Homo sapiens: one gene and its partner. The protein of the gene in region 2 purifies or fractionates together with the protein of the main gene of each other region. This does not show direct contact. Each region holds a gene or a part of one and is shown on either strand. Other genes may lie near its edges. The genes, in order: DERL1 and CYBA.

Region 1 (3,818 bases), on a different chromosome or scaffold from region 2:
TGCACCACCACACCTGGCTAATTTTTATATTTTTTGTAGATACAGGGTCTCCTGATGTTGCCCAGGCTGGTCTCAAATTCCTGAGCTCAAGCAATCCACCTGTCCTGGCCTCCCAAAGTGCTGGGATTACAGGCATGAGCCATCGCACCTGGCTGCATTTCCTCATACATTATGAAATTTCTCTTTCTCATCATTGCAAGCATTTTCTGATGTCATTAGACTTTCATGGTGTTTTTGCCATATTTTGACATACAAAAGTTTAATTAAATGTAGGCATATGTATCCATGATGTGTCATGTTTAGAAAGTCTTTTCGCTCCAAGAATGTAAGTGTTCATGGTTTTATTTTAGCACTTTCAAGGTGCATCCAAGGAATGAGGAAGAGATCCAACTGTTTTTCTAAATAGTCACCCAGTTTTCCCAACCCCATTTACAGAGTAACCCACATTTTTTCCAATTATTTGAAAAACTACTTTCATTGAACGTTTATACTCTAGTCTCTTTTACATGTAGGTCTATTTTAACACCATTCTGTTTGGAATTGGTTCCTATGCCAATATCAAGTTATTTTAATTTCTATTTTCTTTTTTTTTTTTTTTTTTGAGACAAGGTCTCAGTCTGTTGCTCAGGCTGGAGCGCAGTGTTTTGACCACAGCTCACTGTAACCTCAAATTTCTGGGTTCAAGCAATTCTCCACTCAGCCTCCCAAGTGGCTAGGACTACAGGCATGTACCATCACACCTGGTAATTTTGTTTGTTTGTTTTTTGAGACGGGCTCTTCCTATGTTGTCCAGACTGCTCTCAAACTACCAGCCTCAAATGATGCTCCCACCTCAGCCTCCCAAAGTGCTGAAATTATAGGCATGAGCCACTGGGCCTAGCCTAGTTTCTATTCCTTTTATAACATATTTTAATAGCTGGTAAAGTTAAACAGCTAAATAATATCTCCCCCTTTTTTTCTTCAACAATTGTCACAATTTTCTTGGTTAGTCTCAATATTTTATTTTTCTAAATGAATTAGAACCATTCTTTTATTATATCCATGTGATATTGATATAATTCCCAGCCAAGAAGTTTTTCATAGCTTTTAGAGTTGTCTATAGAGCTATCTCTTTCTACCTTTTTATACTTAACCACAAAAGCTGAGTATCTTACTGCCTACAATATTGAAAATTGAGCTTCGGCCGGGAGTAGTGGCTCATGCCTGTAATCCCAGCACTTTGGGAGGCCGAGGTGGGCAGATCACCTGAGGTCGGGAGTTCGAGACCAGGCTGACCAAGGTGGAGAAACCTTGTCTCTACTAAAAACACAAAATTAGCCGGGCGTGGTGGCACATGCCTGTAATCCCAGCTACTCGGGAGGCTGAGGCAGGAGAATCGCTTGAATCCAGGAGGCAGAGGTTGCAGTGAGCCGAGATCACAACACTGCACTCCAGCCTGGGCAACAAGAGCGAAACTATGTCTTAACAAAAAAGAAAATTGAGCTTCTTGGGCTTTCCAAGCATACAACCCTAGCTGTAAATAAACTTTTGTATCTTATTTCATTCTTGTCTAATTCACTGGCTGGCACCCCCACCAGAACAATGCTAAATAGTGATTGAAGCAGATGGCCTTCCTAAACTTTTGGAAATGGCAGCAAAATGCTGGCTTTTGGTGTGAGAGATATGTGTCTATCTCATTGCACACTAGCATGTACCAAGCACAAAAGACATGGCCCCTGAATTCCTCAGAGTAGTGGGGAAGGCTGTCAAAGGAAGAAAGGGTTGGCACAAGGGAGGGGACATGTGGACTTGTTACAAAGGCCCCAAGAATTGCAAGAGCACAATAACTGAATGGGTACTGCTAACAATTCAAGTGTGGCTGGAATGGAGGACGTCAGTCACGGGGACTGGCCACATACAGACTGGCCAGTTCCATTCTCCAAGTACAGGAATGTAACCCTCAGAGCTTAATTCCTTGTAGAGGGAAATGCAATGTGCATACCAAAAAAGTGACTTTCCAAGAAACGTGTATTAAACCAGAAAAATAAAATAGTTTAACATTTGGTTTGATTCATTCACAACTTTATCACAGAAACAGGATAGTTTAGTGGAAAGGGAACTGGAGATGACTTGAGAAGACCTGGGTTTAAGTTTTTGCTTATAAGTCACCACTTCCGAGCCTCAATTTCCATAGTTAATTTTTTTAAAGAAATCAATAAATTAATGTGCTACTCAGCTTATTTACACGCACTGATTCAGGAGACGGATTTCATAGATGAGGAAACAGGATGAGAAAAGGTTAAGTATCAGCCAGTAAGTGGTGAAGCTAGAATTTTATCCCAGACAGTCTGACTCCAGAGTTTGTGATACTAAGCCCCTATTTTTACAATCCCTCTCACAAATGGCGTCAGTATTATGAGGTACAATTACAATTAGTGTAAGTGTTCACTACTACAGACACTTGTGTAATCCTGAAATAGACTCAGAGTAAACCTACTAATTAATTCTCTGTGCTTAAGAAAAGGACTGGGAGTAAAGACCAGAAGCAAACCCTCTAGGTAGCCCTGGACCCTTGGAAAAGTATGGACGTCAAATTGGCTTCATCATCTACCCAATGACATTATCCTATGACTTCTGCCTTCCTTATCTTACAGGATTTGTAAAAGGTTGGAATTAAGAAAGTGAATTAAAAAGATACTATGCAAAAAGAATTAATATGTGTGGGTGTGTTAATTGTATTATCACAATCTTTTCGGAAACACCCGCTAACCAGTTTTTATAAATTCATATTTCAACTACCCCCATATTCCTATAAGTTACTCAAGGCCTGGTTTTGGAAAAGAAACCTTGTTTTTGTCTGACTACATTTTCTCTAATGCTGATGACATAAGACTATTTTTAGTCACTGTTTGCACCTGTTCTTTGGAAATCAGTGTCTGTCAAAATATCTCACTTCTTTTCCCTGTTCATTAAGCCTACCCTTGAGTTATACTTGCTTTCATTGATCTAAAAGACTTAATATTATTTTTGTGTTACTTTAAAATTATAATCTGAAAACACCAGAAGACAGCTTATCTCTTTAGAAGGACACAGTGTAACATATTTCGGAAATCCCCATTGTAAGTATCCAACTAAATCCCATTTTTTCCTCGACCTGATATGTAAACAGTAAGGAGAAGGAACTGGCTTTACGTTCAGTGCCAGGAGTGAAGAGGCCCATTTTCAACCCTGGAAAGCCTAAGAGGCAGCCAACTGCAGCACAAAGAGCCACGACTTGCAGACAGAGGACTGCCTGCCTCACACTTACTGAGAGGACTCGTGGGGGAGTATCTCATTTTAAGTCCACAGCAACCTCAAGGCCAGGCCCATAATGATCCCAGTTTTTTCAGGAGGAAAGCTGGGCCCTAATTAGAGTTCCTCACTTAACAAGGACATGTAGCCCATGTGCTCACTGCTATATACACCCTTAAAGAAGACATAAGACATTGTTCCTCAGTTATTAGTCCAACAACTTCAGAGTGTAGGTTGCAGCCATCCTTTAGCTAAAATCTTCTAAACAATCTGCTACTGAAATAATTTGCCATCCAGAATCTAGTGTTTTTTTTTTTAAAGTATGAAAAGTGAGGATTTGTCTGAAATAATAAGGATCACTTGATTCGGACTTAAGTATATATCAGTCACCAAGCAAGAAAGATGATGAGCACCTGTGTGACAAATGCTAGTTTAGTAAACTGTGGCCTTTTTTGCTGGGTGGGGAGACACAACGGGTAGGCAAGAAAAGGCCCCTTCCATTCATTTAAACAAATGAAAGGCACTTAATCTTTAAAAAGAGCAATTAG
Region 2 (2,950 bases):
TGACCCAGCAATTCCTCTCTGGGTTTAGCACAAGGAATTCCTCCCGAGGTCTCCAGGAGCCACTAGCTGTGCGTGGCAGCAGGGAGACGGGGGGGATGCGGGTGGCCCCCGGAAAACAAAGCAACAGCCCAGATGAGCACTTGGCAACAGGAAGGGGTTCTAAAGGAGAGTTCTGCCGGTGGCAGGTCAGTGAGGCTTGAAACAGAACTCCACTTCCATACGCGGAAGGCGTACACAGAAAGTGCTGCACCTTTCCCACGCACACACACTAGAAGACGCACAGCAAGGGGAGGGCAGTTGCCTCTGCGGGCAGGAGGGACTTGGCTCTATGGACAAAAGGATTTAAATAAGCAAAGTCTGAGGGCTCTGTCCACCCAGAGACCCCCGCAGTGAGAGGTGGCCTGCAGCCGTCTGTTCCGGAGCCCAGGGCAGGCAGAGGGCATTTCACCCAAGGCCTGGCCAGGCTGCGCCCTGTCCTCCCACCCATCCCTGGCCTCTCAGAGAGATCACTGTATCCCATGGGATGGGCAGCCTTCTAACAGGGTGCAGCAGTCATAAACCAAACGCAGGTGTCGGCAGTTTAAGAAAATGTCTGCGTCCTGGCACCGCCCATGAATCAGCGCGAATAGGGTTTAGGTGAGAAAAGCCTGATAATGGGACCCAAGCGCAGGCACGGTCTTCGGCCGGCTGCGTGACCCCAGGCCAGTCACAGCACCTCCCTGAGCCTCCGCATCTTTGTCTGTAAAGTGGGGACCCCAGTACCCCTCCCAGGGCTGTGGTGCGGGTTAATGAGGAAATGCAAGGAAATGACCCGACACACTAGACACGCCAAAAATGGCAGCAGCAACCGCTGCGTCCCCGCCGTGCTGTGAGCACACGCCCAGGCTCACACTTGCTCCCAGCCTTGGCTCAGCCTACAGAGCCGGCTTCAAGGGCCATGCGTGTCCGAGGGTGTCAGGGCAGGGGCTGGGGATGGGGGTGGCCGGGGCCGACCTCAGAGGGCGCCACTCACCAGTAGGTAGATGCCGCTCGCAATGGCCAGGCAGGCGGTCCCAAGGATGGTGGCCAGCAGGAAGCCGGCGGGCACCGAGAGCCTGGGGGACAGCGGGTGAGAGGCAGGGACACAGAAGGGCACTCAGAAAGGGGAACGGAGCCCCAGGTCTGGGGGCCAAGGCCACAAAGTCTCAGGACAAGGCAGACTGCAGACCCAGGGGACGTGCGCGGACCGGGGCTTGTTTCGGTCCTGGGTGTTCTCAGCCTTGATGTGGACACTAGCGGCTCTGGTGCACTTGCTCGGAGGAAGCAGCCACGTGTGGGTGTCCTGGCCTCAGCCGGCAGTAACCAGCAGACACACAGCACGGAACCCTCCACCCTACCAGGAAGCCCAGGCAAGACCCCCCAGCAGTGCATGCTGACCCCAGACCCTGGCGACGGATCGGAGCTCCTCGGATTTGGAGTGGATCCTTACAAATCCTGCACACTAGACAGCAGACACAGGCCCTGCCAGAGCCAGGGACCCGAATTTTTGTTTGGAAAAACACTGAGGTAAGTGGGGGTGGCTCCTGTCCAGGCAGCCCGGCCGGTGGGACAGTGGGGAGGGTCGGCTCCAAGCCCTCCTGAGCCCTAGAGGGGGTGCGGGACGGGGACTCACAGGAGATGCAGGACGGCCCGAACATAGTAATTCCTGGTAAAGGGCCCGAACAGCTTCACCACGGCGGTCATGTACTTCTGTCCCCTGGGGGAGGGAGGAAGGCGAGACGGCGCGGCTGGGCCTCTCCCACTCGGGACTCCTTTGCTGCCCTGCTGACCACCCCAGGGCACCCAGGCCTCTTTCCTCCCACAAAACACACCGGGCAGGCACCGGCCTTGGTTTACCCACAAGCACCAAAGGGTTGGTTCCGGAGCCTCCAAGTGAGAAACCAAGCTCCACCCAACCCTGTGAGCCCTGCCTGGGCCCCGCAGCCCCCGGAGAGACCCCAGAGCAGGAGGAGACTCACCAGCGCTCCATGGTGGAGCCCTTCTTCCTCTTCCCCCGGGGGTACTCCAGCAGGCACACAAACACGCCCGCCACACTGAAGCCATGTGGTTAAGGAACAGCCCAGCTCAGCCTGAGGGGCCACAGGGAACTCCCTTTACTGAAGACAACACAGAGAGGGGCCCGAGCACGGTGGCTCATGCCTGGAATCCCAGCATTTTGGGAGGCTGAGGCGGGAGGATCACTGGAGCCCAGGAGTTTGAGACCAGCCTGGGCAACATAGTGAGACCCTCATCTCTACAAAAAATTTAAAAGCCAGGTGCAGTGGTGTGTGCCTGTGGTCCCAGCTACTCCAGAGGCTGAGGTAAGAGGGTGGCCTGAGCCCAGGTGGAGGCTGCCATGAGTCACAGCTGCACCACTGCACTGCAGCCTGGGGGACAGAGCGAGACCCTGTCTCAAAAAAGGTCGGGGGCAGCCACTGCCTGAGGTCACAGAGCCAGGAGGCAGCCACGGGAGGTTCCAACAGGTCTGGCACTCGGGGCTGCCCACGCCCTCCCTCCCACCACCCTGCCCAGTGCTCCTTGTCGCAAGGTCCGGCTGGGCGGCAGGGCTGAGATGGGGCAGAGGAGGTAGAGGGGCCGGTCAAGGGGGATGACTGACAGGAGCGGGCAGAGGGGATCCCAGCAGTCCAACAGGGAGGCCTCAGTGCTGGCCCTGGCCCTCTGGTGACACCCCCTGCCCACCACTCACCAGGACTTAGACTGGCGGGTCTGCCGCTGATCGCCACATGGTCCTGGCGAGGGGCCTGGCTGCTGGGGCCTGGGCTGCCCAACCCGTGCACAGCCCACCCTGTGTCCCAGCCTGGCTGCGGTGGTGGGGAGCGGAGGCAAACAGCTCACTGTGAAGTGGCTCCCCAGCTCTGCCCTGGGCGTTCCCCGCCCACCCCAGCCTCAGGTGGAAGGATACATGGAGTAG

What was found.
Region 1: the proteins of CYBA (region 2) and DERL1 purify together in Homo sapiens (affinity purification with western blotting; one study listed by BioGRID). This does not show direct contact.

Annotation. Positions count from the first base shown.
Region 1 is NC_000008.11:123,032,281-123,036,098, forward strand, and holds part of DERL1 (derlin-1), read right to left. Parts: intron 1-3,818. UniProt on the Homo sapiens protein: Functional component of endoplasmic reticulum-associated degradation (ERAD) for misfolded lumenal proteins. Forms homotetramers which encircle a large channel traversing the endoplasmic reticulum (ER) membrane.
Region 2 is NC_000016.10:88,645,104-88,648,053, forward strand, and holds part of CYBA (cytochrome b-245 light chain), read right to left. Parts: coding exon 2,942-2,950; intron 2,073-2,941; coding exon 1,998-2,072; intron 1,736-1,997; coding exon 1,652-1,735; intron 1,095-1,651; coding exon 1,013-1,094; intron 327-1,012; coding exon of another isoform or gene 63-326; exon of another isoform or gene 1-62. UniProt on the Homo sapiens protein: Subunit of NADPH oxidase complexes that is required for the NADPH oxidase activity that generates, in various cell types, superoxide from molecular oxygen utilizing NADPH as an electron donor.